4 linked regions of the Homo sapiens genome follow. The protein of the gene in region 4 interacts with the protein of the main gene of each other region in a biochemical or structural test. Each region holds a gene or a part of one and is shown on either strand. Other genes may lie near its edges.

What was found.
Region 1: the proteins of THRB (region 4) and PPARGC1B form a complex in vitro, tested with the Homo sapiens proteins (one study listed by BioGRID).
Region 2: the proteins of THRB (region 4) and BRD8 form a complex in vitro, tested with the Homo sapiens proteins (one study listed by BioGRID).
Region 3: the proteins of THRB (region 4) and LRIF1 form a complex in vitro, tested with the Homo sapiens proteins (one study listed by BioGRID).

What each region holds. Positions count from the first base shown.
Region 1 is NC_000005.10:149,733,310-149,740,337, forward strand, and holds part of PPARGC1B (peroxisome proliferator-activated receptor gamma coactivator 1-beta), read left to right. Parts: intron 1-7,028. UniProt on the Homo sapiens protein: Plays a role of stimulator of transcription factors and nuclear receptors activities. Activates transcriptional activity of estrogen receptor alpha, nuclear respiratory factor 1 (NRF1) and glucocorticoid receptor in the presence of glucocorticoids.
Region 2 is NC_000005.10:138,161,612-138,168,639, forward strand, and holds part of BRD8 (bromodomain-containing protein 8), read right to left. Parts: coding exon of another isoform or gene 6,859-7,028; intron 6,468-6,858; coding exon 6,323-6,467; intron 5,117-6,322; coding exon 4,907-5,116; intron 4,498-4,906; coding exon 4,217-4,497; intron 3,556-4,216; coding exon 3,103-3,555; intron 2,803-3,102; coding exon 2,709-2,802; intron 2,523-2,708; coding exon 2,476-2,522; intron 1,734-2,475; coding exon 1,519-1,733; intron 536-1,518; coding exon 443-535; intron 254-442; coding exon 185-253; intron 1-184. UniProt on the Homo sapiens protein: May act as a coactivator during transcriptional activation by hormone-activated nuclear receptors (NR). Isoform 2 stimulates transcriptional activation by AR/DHTR, ESR1/NR3A1, RXRA/NR2B1 and THRB/ERBA2.
Region 3 is NC_000001.11:110,953,895-110,960,922, forward strand, and holds part of LRIF1 (ligand-dependent nuclear receptor-interacting factor 1), read right to left. Parts: intron 1-7,028. UniProt on the Homo sapiens protein: Together with SMCHD1, involved in chromosome X inactivation in females by promoting the compaction of heterochromatin.
Region 4 is NC_000003.12:24,484,832-24,491,859, forward strand, and holds part of THRB (thyroid hormone receptor beta), read right to left. Parts: intron 1-7,028.

The sequences.
Region 1 (7,028 bases), on a different chromosome or scaffold from region 4:
GCTTTGAGGCATGGATCCCAAAGGACTGTGGGTGGCTTCACCTTTGTTCAGGCTATGCCCCTGGCCCAGAGTACCCTCACTCACCCGTCCTGCATGGCCTTCTCCTCTACTAGGCTCTCCCAGCCCAGCTTGCCCTGCTTTCTCTCCTTTGGTTTTCTGCATCTGTGTGATACAACCAAGCACTTTGTGTGAGTCTGGTGTCCAGTAAGATTCTAGCACTAGGGTTGTACCTTTTATCATTGTGCCTGCAAGGCACCTGTCAGTATGCTGAGCTGTGTTCCTTTGCTTAGCTCTTGGCTAGGCACATGGATTACAGACAGGGGTGCAGCTGGGTCCTGCCAAGCAGAAGCTCCCAGGCTAGCAGGGGAGACAGCTGGGCAGCGAGTGTGGGAGAGAGGAATGCAGAGGGCTGCAGCTGTGGGCAAAATTTTAGACCCCAAAGGCCACACAGCAAGTCCACACTAAATATGGGCTATTTGAAGTTGCTTAGGGCATCAGTCATAGATGCACAAAATGTCAGAGTTGGCAGCGGGAATGTTAGAAATCATCAGTTCTAACAACTTATTTAAAAATATTTAATTATAGAATTGTTAGAAAATACTGCCAAGCATAAAGAAAAAAATGAGAAATATGTAACATGACCCAAAGATAACCACTTAATTGTCATGTATATTCCAGACTGTTTATTTCCTGTTCATATAGATCACATCTTATTTTTAAAAAATGGAGTCGCCGGGCACGGTGGCTCACCCCTGTAATCCTAGCACTTTGGGAGGCCGAGGCGGGTGAATCACCTGAGGTCAGGAGTTCCGGACCAGCCTGGCCAACATGGTGAAATCCTGTCTCTACTAAAAATACAAAAATTAGCTGGGCGTGGTGACACACACCTGTAATCCCAGCTACTTGGGAGGCTGAGGCAGGAGAATCGCTTGAACCCGGGAGGCGGAGGTTGCAGTGAGCCGAGATCGCGCCACTTCACTCTAGCCTGGACAAAAGAGCGAAACTCATTCTCAAAAAAAAAAAAAAAAAAAAAAAAGGAGTTATCCTGAATATACTGATTTGTAACTTGGAATTGCACTGTTCTGTAACTTGTTTTTTTTTTTCCTCTTCCAAACAATATGCTGTGAACATCTTTCCACATCAGTAAATATTCTACTTAGTATCTTAATGATTATATAATGTTTTGTTGAAGATTGAACCGAGATGTATTTAATTAATCCTTTATCGTTACTCATTTACGTTGTTTAATTTTTTTATTTTGCTATTGTAAGCAATGCTAAAACGAATATCTTTTTATGTATGTCTTTGTTTCTTCCTTTAAGTTCCTAGAAGTGAAATTACTCCATCAAACTCATTCCTGGATTCTCTTCTAGAAAGATTGTACTTATTTGTGCACTGGCATGGTCTGGGAACACCTGGTTTCCTATACCCAGATAACTGTTGATATTTTCATTGTTTTTCATTTTTACCAGTCTGTTCGTCAATAAATTCTGTTACCCTTATTGTTTTAATGTGCATTTATTTGATTACTTGTGATGCTAAACTTCTTCCCCATATGATCATGGGTGACTTGTGGTTCTGTGTTTCTGAACTTGGCCCATTTTGCAATTGGTATCTTGTCTCCTCGTTGTTCTAAAGCTGGGACTGAGCACCCAGAAGGGCCCCCTGCCACATGGAGAACTGGGAAAATGGCTCCACACACCCCTTGAAGCCAGGGCCAACTTCTTTTTCAAATCAGTTTGTAGATTTGGACAAATGTATAGTGTGTGGGAGAAGATTGAAGCATAGCCTTCACTGGGTGCATTTGCCCATTCTTTATCTGTGTGAGACTTAGGGAGAGTAACTTCTTCACCTGAGCCAGAAGGGGTCATGTTCACCAGAGACCTGGGCTCCACTTTCATTGGGATTCCCTGGCTGGTGCTAATGATCAGGATGCCTGTGAAACCCAGGAAGGGCAATGGCCCAGCAGCTGTGCCCCACGGGCTCATATTTCCTCTTTACCTTAGGGCCCTCCTCTTAGCAGCTCGTGCAGGCCAGGCAGAAGTTCCACTATGCCACGTGAGTCACCCTCTTCCTTCTTCCTCTGGAATAATAGAAGAAAGACTGGCTCGAGTGAGAAGCAGTCTTGCAAAGGGGGCTCAGGCTTGGAAATGCCTAACAAGAATATTGCAGTGTTGATCCTTGCCTTCTCCTTCATCGTCATCATCAGTGACGTTTACTGAGTATCCCCTATACCCCATGCAGTTTTCTGAGCCTTCTGTTTGCACTACTACATTTCATTCTCATAGATATTGTGCAAAATGTAGGTGCTGTTGCACAGCTGTACAGATCTTACAGTTTCAGAGAACTCACTGACTTGTGGAAGACTAATTACCTTTGAGTAAGTAGAAGAGCCAGCATTAGTGGGCAGTGTTCCCAGACTATTTGACTCTAAGCTCCTTGAAGACAGGGGCTACTCTCAGTTTTTGTTCATCAGTGTTTTTCTAGCACCTTGAGCAAATGAAGGCACATAGATTGTATAGAGAGAATGCAGAGGCCGGGTGCGGCGGCTCACGCCTGTAATACCAGCACTTTGGGAGGCCAAGGCGGGCAGATCACGAGGCCAGGAGTTCGAGATCAGCCTGACCAACGTGGTGAAACCCCGTCTCTACTAAAAATACAAAAATTAGCCGGGCGTGGTGGTGTGTGCCTGTAATCCCAGCTACTCAGGAGGCTGAGGCCAGAGAATTGCTTGAACCCGGAGAATTGCTTGAACCCAGGAGGCGGAGGTTGCAGTGAGCTGAGATTGCACCACTGCACTCCAGCCTAGGCAACAGAGTGAGACTCCATCTCCAAAAAAACAAAAAAGAAAGAATGCAGAACAAGTCCCTCTGCTTCTCTACGCCTGTTTTTCAATCCTTGAAATGGGGATAATAGGCCCTCTCGATTGGGAGTGAAATAATACAGTATATCTAAAATGAGCATTAACCTGCTACTCATGAAAGTTGGAATAATTCTCTCTTTGAAGCACTTTAGAAGGACAGGATTAAGTATGGAGCTAATTTTCATGCATGCAATCTTTTTTTTTTTTTGCGTAAAAAAGAGAAGCATAATTCTTATTAGAGAGTGAAGGGTACCCAAATAAAGTCATTTGGAAGAAAATGATCAGGGTCAGTTTCTATCTGTCCTCCTACAAGGTAGTCGGAGTGCCTCATATCCATCCCATTGACACTCAGCTGATGCAGAATCGATTGGATTGATCTTTCTGTTCTTCTCCCCTTCTGATCTAGGTTTTTGTCTGTTTGTAACTAGATTCCTGCAGTTACTACCAAAGAGATCTTTGCTGCACCCGACTTTGTCTTCTTCCATTTGCCCTTAGCCCAGATGGCAGATCAGTCCTCTTAGAGTGCATATCTGACATCACTCTCTTGCTCACACATCTCCCATGGCTCCTCAGTACATTTTTTTTTCTTTTAAGACTTTATTTTTTTAGAACAATTTCAGGTTCACAGCAAAATTGAAAGGAAGGTACAGAGATTTGCCATATACCCTTGCCCCCAACATGCATAGCCTCCCCCATTATTAATATTCCCCACCAGAGTTGTAGATTTGTTATAATTGATGAACCTACATTGACACATCATTGCCACCCCAGAGTCTGTAGTTTACATTAGGGTTCACTCCGTGGGTTTGGACAAATCTGTAATGACAGGTATCTACCATGGTAACATCACACAGAATAGTCTCACTGCCCTGGAAATCTGCTCTACCTTTTCATTTCTTCTGTCCCCCAACTCCTGACAACCACTGATCTTTTTACCGTTTGTACAGTTTTGCCTTTTCCAGAATGTCATATAGTTGGAATCACGCAGTATGTAGTGTTTTCAGATTGGCTTTTTTTTCACTTGCTGATAGGAATTTAAGGTTCCTCCATGACTTTCATGGCTTGATAGCTTAGCTCTCCGGTATTTTAAAATTAAAGCCTAAACTTAAACCTGATTTCCGAAGGCCTTCGGGTACTTTTAAGTTGGAGAGTTAGGCCCTTGACTTTGTCTTGAGCTGTCTGCTTTTACTTTGGGATCCTGTACCTCCCCAGGAAAACCCTGAATTTTCCTCCTGGAGGCTTAGACTCAGGCTGCCCTTTTCTGTGTCTTCCTTCTCCATTTCCATGATTCATCCTGCGAGCCCCTGCTCACCAGCCACTGTTTTGGCGATGCCCTCTCCCTCACCTCCAAGCCAGCTGTTCCATCTTCTGTGTGGCAGTACGCAGGGCCAGCAGAGCACTGACCTTGGAATCCCCTTACTGGGTTTGAGTCTTGGTTCTGCGATTTGCCAGCTTCGAGGCCTTTGGCGGGTCACATAACCTTTCTGAGCTTCTGTTTCCTGAAGTGAGAAGATATGATGATTAAGATTGTTGTGAAGAGGCCGGGCACAGTGGCTTACGCCTGTAATCCCAGCGCTTTGGGAGGCTGAGGTGGGTGGATCACCTGAGGTCAGGAGTTCGAGACCAGCCTGGCCAACATGATGAAACCGCGTCTCTACTAAAAATACAAAAATTAGCCGGGCATGGTGGCGCATGCCTGTATTCCCAGCTACTTGGGAGGCTGAGGCAGGAGAATCACTTGAACTGGGGAGGTGAAGGTTGCAGTGAGCCAGGATCACACTACTACACTCCAGCTTGGGTGACAGAGTGAGACTCTGTCTCAAAAAAAAGATTGTTGTGAAGAGTCAGTGAAAATCGAATGACAACATGGATTTAAAGCATGTAACACATGCCTGGCACAGAATAAGCACCAAATAATAGATATATCTCTTCATCTATAGATCATATTAAGTGTTAGGACATCACTCCTGGACGTTAAGCTCCACAAAGGCAAGAATTTTCGTTTATTTCATCCACCTTGTTTTTCACCATAATGAATAGATCAGTGCCTGGAATATAACAGACATTTAATCAGTCCTCATTGAATGATTAGGAAATCACTCCTGGACGTTAAGCTCCACAAAGGCAAGGATTTTCGTTCATTTCACCCACCTTTTGTTTTCACCACAGTGAATAGATCCGTGCCTGGAACATAACAGACATTTAATCAATCCTCATTGAGTGAATGAATATGCTAGACTATGAGCCTCTTCAGGGCAGACACTGCTTCTTGTTTTATATCTTCAGTCTGAGTGTTCCTGAGAAGGGATGGAATACAAGTCTGGTGGAATGAACTGGAATGTCCTCTCCCCGCCACCATCCCTGCCATTTTAATGTATTCATAGCCTACCTGAACTTTAAGCCCCCTCTTGAAAGCCTGCCCTCTCTGGAAAGCATTTTTTTTTTTTTGAGATGGCGTCTCACTCTGTCGCCCAGGTTGGAGTGCAGTGGTGCAATCTCGGCTCACTGCAACCTCCCGGGTTCAAGCGATTCTTCTGCCTCAGCCTCCCAAGTAGCTGAGACTACAGGCATGTGCTACCACACCTGGCTAATTTTTATATTTTTAGTAGAGATGGGGTTTCACCATATTGGCCAGGCTGGTCTTGAACTCCTGACCTCGTGATCCGCTCGCCTCGGCCTCCCAAAATGCTGGGATTGCAGGCATGAACCACCGCGTCCAGCCTCTAGAAAGCCTTTGAAGCTAACTTCTTCTGCTTCCACCACCCACGTGGCTTGTGCCACTTACTATCCCATGGTATCTGAGTGTGCTTTTATTCCTACAACTGGATTGAAAGCTCTGGGAGGACAAGAAATTATTTTTATCCTGGACTAGCAGTGTGGTTGCCTAGAAGAGCGTTTTATAGGTTTCAATGTCAGGTTCTCTGAAAGAACTTTGTATTTTAAACATTTGACTATGGAAAATGTCAACTCATACAGAAGTAGACAGTAGAGAGAACAGTATGGTGAATCCCCATCCCTCCATCACCCAGCGTCCACTGTTAAAGACTTGCAGTCACTCTTATTCCATCTCCATGTACAAGACGTCATTTCATCTGTGACTATTTCGTTGTGTATCTGTGAAGAGACTTCTGAGTGCTATTGCATGGATTTCTCCCAATAACTGTGAGACTGGCTTTCCCCATTTTGTAGGTGATGAAACTGAGGTGCAGGGAGGTTAGGTCAGTTGCTCAGGGTCTTGAAGCTAGTGAGCGGCTTACCTGGGATTTGAACCTTGACTGTGAGCAGCTCCCTCTCCTTCCAGGCTTGGGGCAGGGGGCCCTTGGAGATACAGGTACACCTTGCCATTTCCAGAAGAGAGGAAGCTGAGGTCCAGCTGCTTGGCTGGAGGAAGCCCAGGCCCCTGACTCCCTGGCAAGTTCATTTCCAGTGTCAGGTCTTGCGAGGTGCGGTGGGCCTTAGCTCTTGGGGAGGGCCAGGGTGGGTAGTCCTCTGAGAGACACCATTGCCCTGAGTGGCTGGGCTTTGGATGGCCGTGGGACCCTGGGGCAAGGTCTACCACCACCCCTGGACAGACTGCATTTTCTTCCTACTCTTGTCATTCCTAAATCCCAAAGGTCCTCCTTGCAGCTGACCACGAGTTCTCTCATGAGATGCTCAGGACTACCCAGTGAGGGAGAGGGAGCCAAGGGGTCAGCAGCTGGGTTCACAGAGCTCAGAGAGGAGGGGCCTGGCCTGAGGTCACCCAGCTGGCCTGGGCACAGGGTTGACAGGCTCTTGGTGGCATCTGGACCCTTGGGCTCCCACCCTGCTCTTTCCTCAGGATAGAGACCGAATTGCTACCCAGATCTGGAGTAGGAGACCAGAGACGAGACCTGAGAGACTTTCACAAATGGTGGGATAAAGCCATTGATTAACTGTCCCCAAAGGCCTGTGATGACTGTTTGGTGTTTTAGGTAAGAAAACAAACATTTGCCCTAATTGTTTGCTTCAGTGACTGAGAGGGCTGTGAATTCTAGGATGGGGTTCTGCTTGGGCAAAGCCCTGGGAGCTTGGCAGAGAATTTCTTTTGGCCTTCTTTTTCTATCTAGGAAATGGGGACGATAGTAGCATATGCTTTGAAGGCTTTTAGTGAAGAATAGTTGAGGCAATGTCTGTAAAGTGTTCA
Region 2 (7,028 bases), on a different chromosome or scaffold from region 4:
GATTTATTCTTTTAGACTATCAGTGGTGATCTAGCCACTGGAATTATCAGTTTAGCACTCAGTGCCCCTTATAGCAAAACCATAAACTTACTTGCTTTAAACTTTCTATCGAAAGCAAAACTTCACTAAGACTGGACAATTTATAATTCAGGCAAGTTACCATGCTGGGTGGACCATGGCTCACCTCTGCACAATGCTGTGGTAGCCAGGTGCTATGTCATCTGTAACAGGCTGCAGGAAGACATTGGCATACCTGTCCAAAAGGAATAAGGTGCAATTACTGACATTCTCCAGAAGTGCAGGGAGGGAACTTACTCTAAGTAACTAAAGGTAGTAAGAACTAATACCAGCAGTTCCACAGAAGCCTACTCAGACTTTTTTCCAGTCACCAACAATGAAGAGTAGGAGAAAATGAACCTACTGACTGGTAAAGCCCACTCACCTATGATTAGCTGCAGCTCTCCATACAAGCATGATGGCTTTCTTCCAAATTTTCTGTGCCTGAATAGCTTCCTGATCCTCACTACAGACAGAGCTGAAACAGAGATACAGCAATTCCACTAGGCACAAGTTAAAAAATAAAAATTATAATTCTCTTTTCTTTTTGAGACAGGGTCTCACTCTGTCCCCCAGGCTGGAGTGCAGTGGCATGATCATGTTCATTGCACCCTCAACCTCCCAGACTCAATCCTCTCACCTCAGCCTCCCAAGTAGCTGGGACTATAGGTGCATACCACCATGCCCAGCTAATTTTTTAATTTTTTTGTAGAGATAGGGTCTCACTGTGTTGCCCAGGCTGGTCTCGAACTCCTGGGTTCCAGCGATCCTCCTGCCTTAGCCTCCCAAAGTGCTGGGATTACAGGTGTGAGCCACTATGCCCAGCCCTAATTATTTCTTGTCAGCTGTTTATTCCAGGTCAAAAAAGGGAAACACTAAAGAAAAGATCAGGCCAGGCATGGTGGCTCATGCCTCTAATTCTACTGCTTTGGGAGGTCAAGGCAAGAAGACTGCTTGAGGTCAGGAGTTCAAGACCAGACTGGACCACATAGATCCTGTCCCTTAAAAAAATTTTTTTAAAATAAAAATTTAAAAATAAAGAAAAAGGCCAGGCATGGTGTCTCACGCCTGTAATCTCAGCACTTTGGGAGGCCGAGGCAGGTGGAACGCTTGAGCTCAGGAGTTTGAGACCAGCCTGGGCAATGTAGCAAAACTTGGTTTCTACTAAAAAAATTTTTTTTAATTAGCAGGGTGTGGTGGCACAGGCTGGTAGTCCCAGCTACTAAGGAGGCTGAGGTGGAAGGATTGCTTGGGCCTGAGAAGTGGAGGTTGCAGTGAGCTGAGATCGCACCACTGCCCTCCAGCATGGGTGAGTGAGAACAAGAAAAAAGAGAAGGAAAGGAAAGGAAAGGAAAGGGAAAAGAAAAGAAAAGAGAAAAGACAGGAAGGAAGGAAGGAAGGAAAAGATCCTCTCCTCACCTTCACTGCCTTGGCCTCAAAGAAAGAATCTCAGATACTCACAACTGTGAAGAAGCAGGGCTGCTGGGGATGGAGTCTGCCAGTGTGTGTGACTGCAGTGTAGCATTGTGTATGCTGAAGCCATCATCACTCTCGCTCACAGGAGGTTCATTATCCATTTCTGACAAGTAGCCTTCTCCTTGATCCTCTTCCTTAGGCTCCTCTAGGCTGGCCGCTTCACTGACACCATCTTCCTCCTCATCCTCACCTGGGGCATCCTTAGATACAGTATGCTCCAGTTAACAAATGCAAGCAAAGCTATCCAGCAAAGCATCATTAAACATGATCTGTCTTTTGGGTTAGAATTAGTTCTAGAAATGACCTCACGCTGTTTCCTGACTCAGCTGTCTATCACTTATACTACCATCTACTTACAGACACTGCGTTAAGTAATTTAGAACCTGGACAAAGAATAATACCCAGGATCTTTTAAAAAGAAAGAAAAAAAAAAGCTACTTACTTAAGACTAAGCTAAGAGGCGTTCCTTCTTTCCCCTTGCTCGAGAGTAACTCTGACCCTGGGTACAAAGTTATCAAAAATAATTTTTATTTTGTGTCTCATTTGATGGAGCAAGCTCACATCACATTCTTTAAGCCTCTGTTACTGCTGCTTTAATAATTCTAAAAAGAAAACTCTGGATGATTCTCTTTGGATAGTCTAATTAATAAACTTGATTCCTGTATGTTCTCCTTGGCTCAGGTATCCTTATTCACTACAAATCACTCTAAGTGTATCAAGCCTTCTTAAGGACTGTGTGATATTCACATGCTGTTTCATATGGGAGGCACCTGTTGCTATAGTACTCCCATTATGCCTGTCTACTGCAGCTTTTCCCCATGCAACTCCATACCAGTCTCTTATCAGAGAATAAAGATGTGACTTTACTGAAATTCATTAAAAAGTAGTGCTATAGGGAAATCTAATCACATGGCAAGAGGAATAAAGAAAAGTCTGAAATACCTTTATCTGGCTTCCAAAAATAGTCCCTGATTCTTCTTTCAATGAGTCTGCAGAGGAGAGAAAGACTACCTGAAGATTTTTCCACCTTAGCCTTCCCCTTCCTATGGACCATAATCCCCTGCAGCTCTCCTTTACATGCTGACCTGTTCTACCTCCTCTACTTGCCCACAACCCACAACCCCTCAGAAGCCAAAGCAAATGATTTCAAGTCAGTGAAAGAGGACTTTATTTACCTGACATTTCAAACTTGTGCTGAGTCTCTGCCTCTAAAGGATCTTCAATGGGATTTGAGCCATGTGATGGAGACAACATGCTTTCAGGGGATGCCTGAAAACCAGAAAAGAAAAAACACCCTAAGTACTGATAAATCGCTATAGCTCACACAACTTTATTCTTCAGTGATAATGAGACCATAGAAGAAATTCTAAGTCCTACTCATGTAATGTGACTCCAATGGTCACCTTAACAGGAATAAGTATATATAACACTAATCACAGCCTATGGGCTTTGGACACATCAAACATGTCAGAACTCAGGAATGCAACTGGAAAACCAAAAAGCCTAAGCTGTCACTTCTTATCTAAGGTATAAACCTCCATCTCCCCAGCCCCGATCTTTCTTAAGTACCTCTGTCTTCACATTTGTAAGTGGAGTCTCATCGCCTTTCCCAATGGCAACATCTGCTTCAACAATCTCTCCAGCTGCAGTACTTCCCAGTTCCTCATCTAAGTCCTGACTCCTGAGTTCTGGTGGCTCCATACTTGTGGCTGGAACAACTCCAGCTACTATTTCGGCTCCTGAAATGACTGGCTCTGGTTCTGCAGGTTCCACCTTGATCTCTGCACTGGGCTCCCTGATGTCCACCAGTTCATGTATTCCCTTGTTTTCCGTTTCCTCAAAGTCCAGTCTCTCTTGCTTGACCGTCATTTCTGGTGCAGGGAGAGGTACTGGCTTGTCCCGCTCCTGCTGGATAGGATGCTCCCAGGGGCCAGGCAGGGACTGAGGATCATCATTTTCTTCACAAAATGACAGTGCTGCTTCCACTGCTGCCACATCCAGCACTTCAGGATGATCATCTACCTGTCCCACAAAACACAAGACTATTGAGGTCACAGAAAGAAGCCCAAGTCCTTCAATTTTTGTTAGCACCAAATGTGATGGCTTGAATCTGCAGCTTTTCGCTCCATTTTTTCCATGTAGTGGAGGCAAACAATGAAGAGGCACCTGTCCTGTGCAAACCAGTAACATGGGTAGACCTGAGGAGATGACTAGTATGTTAGCACCAAAGGGCTACAAAGATGGAGATGGGCAGAAGTAGGAGAGTTGTTTAAGTAATTCTTACTGTAAGAAGCAAAGCAGCCGAGTATGGTGGCTCATGCCTGTAATCTCAGCACTTTGGGAGGCCGAGGTGGGTGGATCACTTGAGGCCAGGAGTTTGAGACCAGCCTGGCCAACATGGTAAAACTCATCTCTACTAAAAATACAAAAAATTAGTGAGGCGTGGTGGCATGTGCCTGTAGTCCCAGCTACTCAGGAGGCTGAGGCACAAGAATTACTTGAGGCTGGGAGGCAGAGGTAACAGTAAGCCAAGATCGTGCCACTGCACTTCAGCCTGGATGAAAGAGCAAGACTCTGTCTCCAAAAAAAAAAAAAAAAAAGCAGCAGCAGCACCAAAGTGAGGCTGAAAAGAGAAGCCTATGTAGGACCCATGAGATTCTCTGGGGCTTCGCTGAATAGTTACCTTGTCCTCAATGATGGCAATGATGTCTCCAACAGTCTCAAAATCCAGCTCTTCACCTGTGTAAGACACAGCAATATCCATCTTCTCAGCCAGATCTAATTCTTCCTTCCCATCTATGCTGGGAGCCTTTGATCCAACAGGAGCCTCTGCTACCCCTGATCGAAAACACTCTTCTTTGATAGAATTGATGATCATGGATATTTCACTGCTGTCCATGGAAACAGTCACAGTATGTGGATCCCCCACAGCCTCCATGGGAACACAGTTGTCGGGTTGACTCACTGAGTAACAGAAAGAGAAAAGCATCTCAGAAGCTTATTGGGTACAAAGCGACCACCTTGAGATCACATAAGCGCTACAGACAGATGTCAAATATCCAAACACTTAAGGTCAGAAAGAGTCATCAACATGTGCCTATGTTTTCTTCTCCCCAGTTTTATCTAGAAAGGTGAGAACATATTTTCAAGCCTGCTCATATCTGTATACTTAGCCTCTTCCTGCAATACATAAATGCCCACCCACCTCTTCTCACATCTATTTCTAAGGATATTTATTTCTAAGGATAAAGATGGCACATGTCTATGTAGAACAGAGAAGAAGCATCTGAATCGGAGCTGATGCTCTTGGTCATTTTTCTCTAACTAAAGCTCAAAATGAAATTTTAGATCTAGTGGCTGCTCAGGGACGCACCTGGAGCTACACTTTCAGTAGTGGAGACAGCCGGAGCAGAGGATGGTGCTGGCAGCGCAGGCATCATGACAATGGTAGCTTGGGACACAGACTCTACAGGGGGTGGCACAAGTTTAACTGGAGGCTCACTGGCAACAGTAGTGAAGGAAGCAAGAGGTGTGGTGAACTGTGTAGGACCAGCTTCTAAAAGCCGGGAAAGAGTGGGAGCACCTAACATATAAAGAGGTACACAAAATGAAGTAAGAAGAAAGCACATAAATAAGAAGCAATAGCTACTTGAAGACTCAACTAAGAAAATTCTTATGGTCTCAAAGGATGAGAGCAACTCCTGCATTGAATAAGTTCATCATCTATATCCTTACTCTAACCTTACTTAAGATCTTCCTCCAAGTTAGGAATGAACCAAAGCACTAGAACACACAACATATATAAAAAATGGGTGGTAAGGCTAGGTGCAGTGGCTCACGCCTGTAATGCTAGCACTTTGGGAGGCCGAGGCAGGTGGGTCACTTGAGGTCAAGAGTTTGAGACCAGCCTGGGCAACATAGCGAAACCCTGCCTCTACTAAAAATACAAAAAAAAAAAAAAAAAAAAAAAAAAAATTAGCTAGGCGTGGTGGTGGGTGCTGTAATCCCAGCTATTCAGGAGGCTGAGGCAGGAGAACTGCTTGAACGCAGGAGGTGGAGATTGCAGTGAGCCAAGATTGTGCCACCACACTCCAGCTTGGGCGACAGAGCAAGGCTCTGTCTCAAAAAAAACAACAACAACAACAACAAAGGGTGGTAATTTTTCCTCAGAGGAAAATTAATCACCAAGAAACGAAAAACTGGTATGAATAAATCTGTCGCTTCTGCTGAAGTTCAGCATATTGTAAACCACCCAAGTTCAACACCATTCAAATACCAATAAGGTTTGTATGGTATTCTATGGAGCTTTTTTTATTTCCCTGCTTTATACTTTCTACCTCATTAAATTCTCATCACATCCTTGTGAAGTATATATGTTACAATAAAAAAGGAAACTGAGGCTCAAAAGCTAAGTTACCTATCCAAGGTCACAAAACCAATGTGTGGCAGGCCTGAGATTCAAGCCCAATTCTCTGGTTCCAAATCTTATTCCACTATTCTATAATCTTAGGTATCTCTAGCACCTTGATTTTGCAAGCCCTAAGAAAGCAGTTCAATATTACTCTCAATATCCATGCTGTGGTCAATCAGGGCTATCACTATCTTGAAGATAGATGGCTTTATAATATGGAGACTACATTGTTTACCAGGTAAAGTAGCTCCAAAAAAAAGTTAGAAAAAGTTGGGCTTTAAATCTAGCACTGACAACTGCTTAGTAACAGTGAAACTGAGGTCAGTCAATGTCAAGTTCAACACCTTTGAGGTTGATAAAGGAAAAGTGGTAACTTACCTGATGCAGCAGGGGAGGCTGCAACAGTATTGGGTGTTTGCTGTATCTCCCCACCATGTATCATGGGAAGGACCCCGCCTACCTCCAGGAGGACACCTGTACTGTTCAGGTGGCCAGAAGCCACAGCCATTTCACTCTCATTGACCTACCAGGGAAGAATAGAGGTGAAGGCTACACTCAAGCTTTCCTTCACTACCATTTCCCAACAAAGCTCCAGCAGTTGATCAAACTTCATGAAAACTAATAGCTAATATCCACAGAGAATAATTTAAGACCCAAGGGAAACTCTAAACTATAATGTTCAAAACTTATTTGACAAGAGTTCTCTGGAGAAGAGAACCAAAATAATTGTGATTCAGATACCTCAGGACCCATGGGTACTATCAACTTACTGTATTTTTAAAAAATTAACATTTAATTAGGAGATCTTTTCCTCTTTTGAACTTTTATTCCCCATGTCACATTTTAGGTCCCAGGCACTCCCTTCCAAGTACTAAATCACCACAGCTCTCAAACACCCACAGAAGTCTCCATACCAGTCTGGGGCTAGTAGGCAGGAGGCTGCCCTTCTTCAAGAGCTCTGACAGCAGAGGGGAGGGGGGTGGAGTTGCTTTCTGTCCAAGCATCTTTTTCTGGGGTGAATCATCTGTTACTGGGGTCATGGGGGCTTCTAAGGGTGCAGAGCCTGGAGGAAGGGTGTCAGGAA
Region 3 (7,028 bases), on a different chromosome or scaffold from region 4:
TTATGCTTGTTAGCTTCCTTCATGGTATATATCATAGATTGTCATCATATATTAATATGTTTGTCTATAGACTGTCTCTCATATTATATTCTACCAATATGAGTGCAGCATCCATATACCATAGACCTAGCATGGTCTTAGATAACTAAGATCAAATAAATACAAAAGTTCAAGGGCAAATAATAACGATAATAATTAGGATTCTCAAAAGCATAAAGGTATGTTTTTAAAACTCTCAGGTATTAATAAAAATCAATACCCAAAATTCTATGTATCCGTAGAAATTTGGTTTACCTTTCTGCAGCCCGAATAACATTATTATATCCTTACAAAAATTTAAAAGTCTTTTGGACACGTGAGAGTGGGTCAAAATATTACATTGACATTTTGTTATTGTTGCTGTTGAGACAGGGCCCGGCTCTGTCATCCAGACTGGAGTGTAGGTGTACAATCTTGGCTCACTGCAATCTCCACCTCCTGGGCTCAAGCTATCCTTCTACCTCAGCTTCTCAAGTAGCTGAGACCACAGATGCACGCCACCAAACCCGGCTAATTTTTGTATTTTTTATAGAGGCAAAGTTTTGCTATGTTGTCCAGGCTGGTCACACACTGACTTTTAATAAATTAAAAGTTAACTTCTAAAGAGAATAAACCCAAAGAAAAGGATGAATTCTTGCTTTCAGGGTTTTAAGAGGAAAAATCTACCTTTATTACCTCCCTGCACCACAAGAAAAGCACATTTGACCTGGATAAGAACATATTCAATATTAAGTCATTACACAAAAATTTACCAAGTGTCTGTTTTAAGTTAAGCACCAGGCTCATCAGGAAAAAAGGGTCAGTAAGCTGTAGCCTCTGGGCCTAATCTGGCCCACTCTGTTTCTGTGCATTCTTATATTTTAATTGATTTTTAAAAATCAAAAGAGTAACAGTAGCCTCTGTAGTGGCTCCTCAGTCTTCTTTGCCAACTCATACTTTTGAATCAACTTTCAAATGTTGGGAGTTTACCAAAGCTTAGAAAGAATCCTTCTCTTCCTATTCTGTACTCTTTTGTTAGATGCTTTCTTCTCAATGCATAACTTCAATTAAATTATCACTTACGCATGAACAATTTCAATATTTCTATCTGTGGCTTCTTTGAAATTTAGGCTTATACATCCAAATTCCCTTTTAACATTTTCATTCAGAATCTCAAACGTTCCTAAAATTCAACATGGCCAGCAGATCTCTGCCCATCCTAATCCCCCCAAGTTCCATCTTCTGCAGGGTTTTCTTTGCTAAATAGCATCTCATCTACCTTAGGTGCCTTAAGTCAGAATAGATAAATCCTCCTTTCTTATTCCTTATATTCAGTGATCACAAAATCCTGTTGATATTGTCTCCTAAATTTCCTTTCATCTGTTCAATTCTCTCCAAATCAACTGTTACCACTCTACTCCAAGCAAACATCATCTCTGGCTTAGAATACTACAATAGCTTCATGACTGATTTTTTTCTCCAATCATATCTTCTACCTTTCAATTTACTCAGCACACTAAAACTGATCTTTCCCTGCTTAAAACATTGCAGTGGCCTTCCATTATTCTTAGAGTCGTAGGAAGAAAACCATTGCTTCTGATGCAATGTTAAGCCAAAGGAACAGAGGATTTTAAGAAAATTGGGCAATTATACTAAAAGTTTCTGAGATGCCAAATAGGATAAGGATTAAAAATGTACACTGAAAACAGTGCTGTGAAGATCACTGATGGCTTTAATAAGAGCAGTGTGGTAGGGGAAAGAAGTTGCTGAGGAGTGGGTATGAAGCAAGTAGACAACTCTTTTTAAACTTTGACTGTCAAGGGGAAGAGAACGACTGGCAGGAAGCTACAGGAATAAATGGAATCAAAGAAGGGATCTTTCCTTTTTCTTTGTTTAAGGTTAGATTAACCAGAACATATGTAAATACTCAAGTGAGCCAGTTCAGGGAAGAAACTGGTAATAAAGGAACAAAAGGGATACACAATGAGAAGGAGGCAGGAAATGGAAACCAGAGAGACAGGTGGAGGGACTCAACCTTAAAGAGAGCTGGAGACCTATCTCCTTCCATTGCAACACTGGAGGAGAGATTATGTGCATTTTCAGGTAAGCATACAACTTTGGGGTTAGGAGGCTGAGGTAATTCTCATTTAATGGGTTTTATTTTCTTTATGAAAAATCACATGACATCATCTGCTAAAAGTAAGAGCAAAAATATGGAAAGATTTGAGGATAATCAAAGATTGGAACAGTCTTCGTGAAGGAGTAAACTGACCACAGAAGATATTAGAGTTGCCAGGATGTGTTGATGGCATGGGGAGACAGGTAGTGGTTATGAATTTATAGTGGTACTAATCTGTACTCGAGATTTTTCTTGTCACACCAAGCACAGATAAAGAGAAAGCATACTGAGTTCATCCAGGGTTGGGGTGGCATCAGGAAGGTGCAACAAAAAAATCAAAGAAGAGCAAAAGAATTTAAGGTATTGATAAGAGTTATTAAAATGAAACAGAGTCTAAACTGGATAGGAAGAAAATGAGAGAATAAAAGGCTAAAGTATAGGGATAAAATAAAGGGATTATTGGTCTGTAGGGCCAGATAAAGTTAACAGTTACAGTAGGAACAGTTAAACAACTCAGCTAGAAATACAGGAACTGGCATTTAGAAAACAGGATGCGTGAAACAGTTTCGTAGATGCAGCAATTTCATCTAATAATAAGTACTACAAAAGTAGATAGGTGCAACAGAACAGAGAATAAGATCACTGGGGGAAAAGATCTCTGTAATAAAGATGAGGTGACAAAGAGATTATCCATACGGATATTGAAATCACATGAGGGAAGATGGTGAGCTAGATGGTGAACTAAGCGCCAAGTTCAGTGACAGGAAGTTGGTAGATGGTGTTAACAAGCTGCAATTAAGTGATATGCCAGAAAGTTATCTTGAAGCCTACTTTCTTCTGCAGTCTATTTTCTTTCCTATTATTCTACTAAAACTTCATTCTCAAAGATTACCAAATATGTTCTCACAGTTAAATTTGTCTTTATCTTCATTCCCTAGGTACCTCTCTGTTGCAACTAATTATCCCTCCATATTGATCCTCTTACCTATCATAGTTTCCACTGTGTACAACCTCTGTTTCTCTTGACTTTCCTAATGCTCCCTTACTCATTTTCTGCATTCTAAGCATTCTCCTTTAACTATCCCACATTTCTTGACCCTGTTTTTCTCCTTCAAGACATTCTTCCTTAAAGACTGCAACAATTCGCCAGGTGCGGTGGCTCACGCCTGTAATCCCAGCACTTTGGGAGGCCGAGGCAGGTGGATCACGAGGTCAGGAGATCGAGACCATCCTGGCTAACACAGTGAAACCCCATCTCTACTAAAAATACAAAAAAAAAAAAAAAAAAAAAATTAGCCGGGCGTGGTAGCAAGCGCCTGTAGTCCCAGCTACTCAGGAGGCTGAGGTAGGACAATGGAGTGAGGAGGCGGCGGAGCTTGCAGTGAGCTGAGATCGCGCCACTGCACTCCAGCCTGGGCGACAAAGCAAGACTCAGTCTCAAAAAAAAAAAAAAAAAAAAAAGACTGCAACAATTCTCACGGCTTCAACTATTTTCAACTATCTTCTTTGGAATAATGACTCCCATAGTTATATCCTTTTATTCCTGTCCCCTACTGGAATTGACATCAGTTCCATATTTGTGATGTCTTACCAAACATTTTAATCCCATCACTTTAAATCTACGAAGTTAAAATTACTCTCTATTGAAAAGTAGTAGTCTATCCTACCATTCAATCATATGGCAGCGCCAATATTTTCCACATCATATAGGTTTCAAATCACCTAGTCATTGCTGATTTGTCTTTATCATCATTCTTATTTACTTTAAATTCATCCACAGAACCTTGCATATGTCCTTACAAAAGGCAAACATTTAATAAATGCATACTGAATCATCAAGTCTATACGGTTTTCTTTTTAACCCATTTCATCCATCTTTTCTTTCTTCATCATTGTGACTTCCACCATCTACATGAGATCCTCATCAGATGTGTCTAGCACTCATCATTCTCATCCCTACAGTATTTTGCTGATGTTGTTTTTCTGATTGCAGCCACTATTGACTATTATGTATCTCTGGCAGACTAAAATTGTTTTCATCCTGTTATCTCTTGTTCAAAGTTTTAGTATTCATCATTGCCAATTCAGCTGGACGCGAAAATCATCTACAATCTAGCTCCAACCAATCTCTACAACAATACCACCCACAACTTCTCAATGTGAAATCTCTGCTCTTACCAGAGAGATCTCTTTGCTATTCTGGAATATGCCATGTATATTACATTATTTACTCAAAGTATTATTATTTTTCTTCTCCAACAATATAAAATTAGTTTCCAATTCTATCTTTTCCATAAAATATCTGCCAGTCACTCCAGCTTAATTTCTTCCAACTTGGAATCCCGAATGTACTCCCATTGGTGCTATTAATGTTGGAAATTATATAATGCTTTCTTTATTGACTTTAATCTATTAGCTAATTTTTTAAAATGAGTATTGTTTCATTCAATAAGACTGAAACTCCTTAAGGTGAGAGGCTTTATAATTTATTTTGCAAATATCCTTCCAATACCAAGCATAGTATTTTATATGATGTCTATATTTCTGCTTTATAAAAAAAACTATACTGTGTGAGCTATTTTCCAATCTGATCACTAAATTTTTCCCTCTCTTTTCCTCTATTTCACCTCCAAAAAATAAAAAAAAGGAAGAAAAATTAAGCTTCTTCCATGTCAGTGTATCAGTGAGAGTCACATAATCTACCACAGACCATAAATTCCTGCAGGGTAGATTATCCTATTCATATCTATATACTCCGCATCTAATTCAGAAACTGGAAATTGCACACAATAATGTTAGCTGAATTGAATCCTACAAGGTATAATTTTTTTAAAAATCCATGATTTCTTGGCAACAAAATGTAATGAGTTCTAAAAATTAATCTGCAGAATGCTAAGAAGTAATAACTCAGGATGAAATTCGTACTCCTTCTATCAATATACAGTTTTTCATATCTAGAAGGAGCCTTCCATTGAAGAGATTAAATAATTAAAGTCCTACAAAGATTCTGTTTTCTGAAAGATCATATTCTGCGGGCTAATGTCAGAACTAAAACTAGAACCAGATTCTGCATCCCATTTTCTAGTCTGGTCACCTAATTACTTTAAAGTAATTACTTTAAACCAGCTGGTGTTCAAACTGAGAAACTACATTTGAAAAATAATACAGTTTAACAGTTTAAAAGAGAAAAGAGGAACATATTAGAAAGATTACAGGCTACTAATTCTGGTTCTTATAATTACAAGTTGACTAGAAAATGTACTTATCCTCTTTGAATCTGTTTCTTCATTTGTTAAATAGGGGAAAATAAAGCTTACTAGGAGAAGTAAATGAAATAACTGCCTGGGAGCATAACAGTTATCATCTTCCATTAAAATATGCAATTGGTCTCTGAGAATAAGGTAAGATAAGGTCTTTTAAAAATGTAATGAGAAATATGGCCGGGTGCAGTGGCTCATGCTTGTAATCCCAGCACCTTGGGAGGCTGAGGTGGGCGGATCATGAGGTCAAGAGATCGAGACCATCCTGGCCAACATGGTGAAACCCCGTCTCTACTAAAAATACAAAAATTAGCCGGGCGTGGTGGCACACGCCTGTAGTCCCAGCTACTTGGGAGGCTGAGGCAGGAGAATCACTTGAACCCAGGAGGTCGAGGTTGCAGCGAGCCACTGCACTCCACCTGGCGACAGAGCGAGACTCCATCTCAAAAAAAAAAAAAAAAAAAAAAGAATGAGAAATTTAATAAAAAGGCACATTAAACATATTGGTAATGTTATATAACTTCTGACATTTTTTACTATTCTAATATTGATATGAGGCATTCATATATTAGAAATAGACTAATAAAAATGTTGAAGGCTGATGAACATTTTATAGATATTTTTGCAAAATATATTTTTTTCAACTGCTAGGAAATCCTTTTCTTACTATCTATGACATAACATTATATACATATAGAACATAATATATCTAAGTACATAACATAGTTATCTATCCAATAATATGTACCATGTATTGCGTACATGATAGATATACCAGTTGTTACTAACTCTAATCCTAATAAACAGTCAAGAAAGTTATGAACTGCCATTCCCATTTTATACTTGAGAAAATGGAGATTTGGAAACATTTAATAACTTACTTAGAATTACACACTCCCCTTGAGAAAGCTTATCTACTTTCTATATTTACTTTAGCATAACCCCATTATAACAGGGTCCAAAAAATTCAAATGTATAAACTAAGAGATTAATGACAGATTTCATTTAGACTCTATAGTATGTGTGTCTGTCTCTCCCTCACACACACACAGACACACTCAAATCACAAAATAAAACACTGTACACAACAAAATGCATACTGAACTGACAATGAAGCATCATCATTCCAGTCAAACCAAACCCCCTGCTGAGAACACTTAAGTTTAGCTCCCCATTTGAATACAAATGGTTATGGGAAGATAGCTGCCAATGGCCAATCACATGATGTCTTAATTCTTATTATTGTAGGATATATAATCACAGGCTTTCATTATAGTACCTCTAAGGTGATGCTTCCCAAATCTCTAGTCTCAGCTCTGACTCAGCCTGAGTTTCATATTCAAATATCTGACTGCTTTCTTGATGTGTTCCTCATCTCAGTTAATTTACCAATATCCACCCAGAAAACTGGCATCATAATTGATCCCCCTTTCTTCCTGCCAATTCATTAACGAAGTCGGTCTATTTTCCCTTCTATATTTCTTTGAATCCAACCCCTACTGTACTGTACCAGCTAGTTCAGGCCCTCAGAATTTCTGAAAAGACAACTGAAATAGGATCCTTATATGTAGATCACTCACCCTCAAATCCAGACTGCCAACGTTATCTAAAATGTACACCTGTGTCAGTCT
Region 4 (7,028 bases):
TAACTTTGGAATTATCTAATATACCTACAAGTATCATTTTATGACTAAAAATTAAAGCTCAGATCAGCCAAGAGACTTGTCCAGAATATTTTTATTCTTAATTAGGTGATATTTCCATAATGCCACCCATTCCTGCATTCATTCATTCATTCATTATCTTCATCCATTTCTAATCTGGATCATTAAAGAAATAAAATCCCCATCAGTTAGAAAATCACTTAACATTAAATACTGAAATGCTTCACACTAAATAATGAAACTCAACACGACAATGTCAATGCTATTTCAATGTAATCATATAGAAACACGTTCCTGTCAGACAGAGGAGCTATAGGCATGTACATACAATGGCAGAGAAACCCTTGAAGTAATATTCAACTATGAATAGGCTGTGAGATGGTCTTTAAATTAAGCTTCACTTGAAAACATTTTAAAGAGAATCTATCATGTAATCTGCTTTCAAATTAAACTTGAAATTCCCCCAAATGTAGAGCTAGCTTGCTAAAAATATTCATTATTGGAATTAAATTAGAAAAATTTTGCCACATCTCGGAGAAAGTGAAATCTGTTCCCAAAGACATCACAGCAATGTATAACTGCCTCAGCTCCAGCAGGCATCATCTCTCAGTGGACTATTCTAAGAGTCTCTAACTGGGCTCATCACCTCCAGTCTCTCACTCAAGACCTATCCCAAAGAACTCTTTTAAAATAAAAATCTGATTTGCTGAACATTCTTAAGTCTCTTCAAGCTATCAAGACAAAGTCAATCTTCCTTATTGTGCCCAGGAAGGTCCTCGCCATCTGGCTCCTGCCTGCTCCAATGGCCTCATTTATAGTCCTTTGCACATGAGTCAGGCTGGGCTCCTTACAATTTCCCAAATGCTTCATACTTTTACTTTCACTTCATAGGCATATCATATTTATTTCTGCCTAGAACCCTCCCACCCCTATGGGTTCCCACAATGTACATTGTACTTAACTATGTCATTGGACTTACAAATATTTTAATTGTCTGCTAAAGTATTAATGCTACCACTACTATAAATAGCTAATATTTAGAAATACTTGACTGTGACTCAAGCACTATATTATTTCATTTAATCTCCACATATGATAGATGAGGAAACTGAACACATGCAATGAAGCCAGGTGAAACCAGCATACAAATCCACACATTTCCCACTCCACGGCCCCAGTTCCAAACGTCTACACCAGCTGTTCTCAATAGGAGCAGTTTTGCCTCCCAGTAGACACCTGATAATATCTGGAGACATTTTTGATGGTCACAACTGGAGGGTTGGGGGAGCTATTGGCATCTAGTGGGTAGAAGCCAGCAATGCTGCTAAACATCCTGTAATATATACGACAGCCCTCCACAGCAAAGGATTATCTGGCCGCAAATGCCATAGCGTAGAGGAATTACCAGGCTCAAAACTCAAATAGTACCTCTGCTGAGAAACACTACTCTACACTAAATCACCTCCTGTAGATTGCCCCAGAAGATTCCGAGCATCTCATCCATACGACAAGAATTTTTAAATGCTCTACCATGGTGTCTTGGCACTTACCATCGTGTCTGGCACTTGGCAGATGTCCCATGCATTTGTGACCAACGGACAGACTCCAGAAGAAAAAAATTACTTATTATAAGGCTTGATTTTTGTGGCAACTTCAATAAAGATAAATTGAAACACATATTCTTAATCAATGATACATGAATGCATGTGCACCACATTCTAGTGCATGGCTTCACTTTAGCAATACCTTATGTTTATGAACCCATAGAGTGGGAGATAGATTAATAAGCCAGATGCCTAGGATCTTTTTCTCACAAGTCCTCAAGGAGATGAGATGCTTTTCAAATCCCTTATAACTGCTACATTACAGGACAAATGTATAGGTTTATCATCTACATAGGTCATAACTTAACTTGTTTCAAAAAATATTTTCTGTGTAAGGTTCCCTTGGTTCCTTTTTTTTTAAAGAAAAATAACACAAGACTAAACAACCTTATTCTATTCCCTGTTGCAGCTACAATTCAGATATAGGTACTTTATTCTAGATCTCCAGATGTTAGAAGTATAGCAGAAATTGCAGTGAAGCCTAGGTAAAATTTTAAAAGTAAACAGAAATACAGCAGAAATAAACCATTCTCCAGCTTATATAAATTAATACACCTAAACAGCAGAAAGAAAGTCAAGGAAAGATTATGATTATAATGTTTTCAAAGGGACAGAAATTTAGCAGGACTTTTGCATTCTTGCAAAACACTTCAACAACAGGCAGCATTAGCCAGTGTTGTATACAAGTTGCTAGGGGTTTGTGTGTGTGTGTGTGTGAAAAAGCAAAAAGGTTCTGTTGTGGTGCTAGATACTGGTCATTTGTCACTTTTTATGAACTGTATTAAAAGGTTAAAACATATGAGCCTGATTTTTAAAAAGTGTGATATAGTGAACTGTTCCTCACAACCTATTGTGCTGAACTTTTGCCACTTAAGGTTTTAGACACACAAGCACACACACACACACACACACACACAAATAAAATGGTGATCAAATGAATTTTGCTACCTGCTCTCCCCTTTCTTGGACATTTATAATGCATGCTAGTATAAAAATAGGCTCTGGAAACTTTTACAAGTTGTTAAACTCAAGATTTCCCAAACATAATTGAGCCTAGAGTAAAATAAACAAATACAGCAGTAAAAGAAGCAAAAAGTAATAATATAAGAAGAGGATCTGTCAACATATTCAGGAGCAAGTAGAAGGGACTGAAAACAATGACAGGGTTTGTGGCTTGGGACATCAGGGTGACTGTAGCATTTCTCACTGTGATTTAAAAGCTGAGCATGGGAATCACAGCAGAAGCCAGAGACAAGCAGTGCCTTTTCCACTGTATGTGAGAACATGACACACACTTGTCACAGAGACAGATTCTGCAAGTATGGACATGCCAGTTGTTAAGACATTTATGACTATAAGACAGAAATGTGCAAAAAGATGACCAAGCCCAAGAAACATTATGATTGCTATCATCAATCATTATTTTCTGAGCACCTGCTTTGTGTAGACATTGATGAAATCAGAAAAAACAGAATCCCAAGAGAAACAAATGGCAAAGGGAAGAAGTACATCTGAACCATCTTGAGAACCAAGGAACAACATGTCACAAGAGTTACAATACTCAACAGGTTCCTGAATGTCAGGATCATATATTATGCTACTAACACCATGACTATCTTGTCAACATTCCTCATCACAAACATTCCTGAGCCTCCAGGAGTCAAGTAAGTATATTCCCTAATAAAGAAGATATGCCTGCTTTCAGTCTACATTCCTTTGTCCACACTTTTGTTTTAATAAACTTGTCACTCATGACTTTCTTATAAATGCCTAAATTCTTGATCACAGAAGAGAAGCCATGACTCCCTGAAGACCCTCTTTGGGAAGTAGGAAGTTGAATGAGCAATTCAGTCCAGACCAATCCTTTCCTAATTGTGTATGCCTCGTCTGCAGTCCACTCTTAGAACACAGAGACATGTATGTATTGAGGTGTTTGTGCATGTGTGCATATGATATGAAATAAACTATAGATAGTATTTGTTAAAATAGGATTAGGAAAAATAAAAATTGGATAAAACATGCAGATCAGCAAGACAAACGTAAGTTGAGATATGTAAGCCACAAGTTTCTTCACTGTGATGAGTTGGACCATGAATTTGCCTTCTTTTTTTTTTTTTAATCTCTAAATCACGATTGTCTCAGCAGATCTGAGACAGATGTCAATGATTTGCACATTGTCCATTGTTCAGTAATTTTCAAATAACTAGAATAAAATAAGCTATTCAATACAATTCAATATATCTTAACTGCTAAAAGAATATACTTCAAGATCCTTCACTGCCTTAAATGAATGAGTAGTAACTGGAAAAATAGCTTTAATAGACAGAAGGCACTGTCTGACAAATAGCAAACAACTGTTTGCTTTTAGCACATAAAGTGGTAAGATGATATCACAGAGGGTTTTCGTTAAGTTCCTTTAAATTATTTTGCCATAAAAGATTTTTTAAATAAAAAATATTGCTTCTTAGAATAATTTTAAACATATCGATGGATGTTGGTCAATCAATAAAATCAACTGAATGATTTCAGTGGTGGTTCATGCCTGTAATCCCAGAACTTTGGGAGGCTGAGGTGGGCAGATCACGAGGTCAGGAGATCGAGACCATCCTGGCCAACATGGTGAAACCCTGTCCCTACTAAAATTACAAAAATTAGCTGGGTGTGGTGGCATGTGCCTGTAATTACGGCTAAGGCACAAGAATCCCTTGAACCTAGGAGGTGGAGGTTGCAGTGAGCCGAGGTTGCACCACTGTACTCCAGCCTGGCAACAGAGCAAGACTCTGTCGCAAAAAAAAAATAAGAAAAAAAAAAGATTTAAACCACTATACCAATATCATTTAATTTCTGGTAAGCACTGACCAGCAGACAGTACAAGATTATCACAGATTATCTTCTTGCAAAAGCCTCAAATGCAAGTATTCTGGGTTGCTACAGGTAGATCTGCCTTCTGTGCAAATTTAATGTGTCTGAGCAAGGGAGATGAGCCCTGTTATCAAGCACATCTACATCTATCAGAAACACTTTCCAGGGAGTATATCAGATTGTTAGGACTGACTGTCATGATGGAAAAGCTACAATATGGTTCTCAGGACAGTCAAGGTTCCTAGGTCCTAATTCCAGACTCCCCTGATTTGCTATTTGGAAAAGATCCTGAAGTTCACAGCAGAACTCAGTTTCTCAACTCAATAAAAATAGCACTGCACAAGAGCTGACAGTATATAAAGACTTCAAAGTCCTTTGAAATTAGGACAGTAGGGACCAAACAACATTAGCATTGAGCATAGATCACTATTCTAGCTGTCAGTTGGCCAGGTTCCTGAGAGGAAGATATGGAAATATATTACTTGTGACTCAGTGATTTGGATACTCCCCCCCACTTGTTTAAATGCCAAAATTGACTAACAAGTTTGGGAACTTAAATTGGAGAATGAACATTTTAAATCAGAAGCTCACCGGTCTAAATATATTCAACTCCCCTACTACTTGGATACAAGAGATTCTTGAGTGAATCTCACTGGAATTTACATTAATATACATGGGCTATAGAAATCACAAACAATCACCTCCTCAGATATAAAATAACTATTTTTAGGGGCCATATGAGAGACTCCAACAGGTATACTCATCTCATCACAATGGAGACAATTTCAGAATCCTTTTGTATTAATATGTTGTCTCATAGGTCACTGGGCTGCATGCTGAACTGAAAAATGGCTAGCAGAGCCAGGTACATAGTAGATACATAAATATTTGTAGACTGAATGAGGAATCAAATCAAAGAATCAGAATGACTTTAAATAAAACAAGGAGTTAACTTGCCATCCATTGCTCAACCAGCTTTGACACTAGAACAAGCCCTTCAAGCAAAACAGACAGCTGTGATCTGGACATATGATGCAATGCAGGCAGCAAACGTTCACTCTGGACAAATCCAAGTCCAAATATGACACTTAATACCAACCCAGAAGGGAAAGAGAAGCACTGCCTTTTCTACCCTTCCATTCATTCTTCCAACAGTGTTTCACCTGTGCCCATGTACCAAGCTCTTTGCTAGGCTATGGGGAGTCAAAGATGAATAAACCCACACATCGTGCCTCATCACAACTTAGAGGTGGGAACAGAAATGGAAACAAACTGCCCTGCAGGGTGATAAGAGCTATATAGACTAAAGCCCAAAGCATCAGGGGCCACATATTCAGGGGTGTTTATGGCCATAGGGTCATTTTCAAGTACCTCGTTGTCCTGTCCTCTCAAATTGCTCTAATCAAAAGTTGGCTGACACACTAGATATTTGGGAAAATTAGCTTACAGAGTGTGGTAACCACTCATTCCTCTAGGTTTCCTGAGCTTTATTTCTGCATTGGGATTCATCACCAGAATCTCCACTGATAGGCCATAGTAGCTCAGGCCCCCAACAATAAACATACTGGGTTACTTTTCATTATTATGTCTTCTGCAATTTTTTTCCATTCCAGAGTTGGTAACAAGACAAGATCATATAAAGAACCTCACTTCACTTTATGTAGAATTGAAGTTCAAGTATTATCCATGATATAATTTGATATTTCATACGAGTATATACTAGTTGGCAAGCACCATGGCAGGCACTCTACATGTGTCATCCTTACAAGTTTAATGCATGCCACCTCCAGACCCCCTTTTTTTCTGTTAACTTGGCTACTACTAAGAAGCTCAGAGCCAAATTAAATACTCTAAAGCAGTAAGCACTTAGGATTGTAGTTTAATTATCTTCCCTCCTCTACAAGATTTTGATCTTTCTTCCCCTCCCATTTTTAACAGTCTGATTTTGTGAAATTTTTACTATGCATTTACTCAGCACACTTATGAAAGTCAATACTCTAGACACAAAAACAAATCACCATAATCTTCAATTATAATTTCCTTTTGCTCTCAATTGGCAAGAGTTTCCATGAATAACTAATTTGAAGATGACTCCTTTGATATTATGCTCTGGTCACTTGAAAACTCAAATAATGCAATATTTCCCACCATCATTTGGTTCAGAATACTTTTATGAAGCGGCAAAAGAGGGCAAAAAGAGGCTGGCTGACTTAACTAATAACATATGATAACCATCAGGTTATTTTCAAAGCTATCACCAAGACCTATTTATTTCTATCTTGTGTTGGATCCTGACCATTACATTTTGCCCCCTCACCAACCACCACTTTTGCAGCCCAAATTGTACCACCATGCACTGGTTGGTCCACTTAGGGCTGCCATTGCCAGAGGCACTGCCAGGACCTGCTGAGTGAGAAGACACTGCCATCACCCAGTGAAGTCTAGTCCCTGGAATTTCACTCTTAGCACTGGCAATGCTTCTGGAACTCATAAAGATTCTGCTGAAATTCAGGGAGTTGAAGGTCAATGTCTTCCAGGGATCAA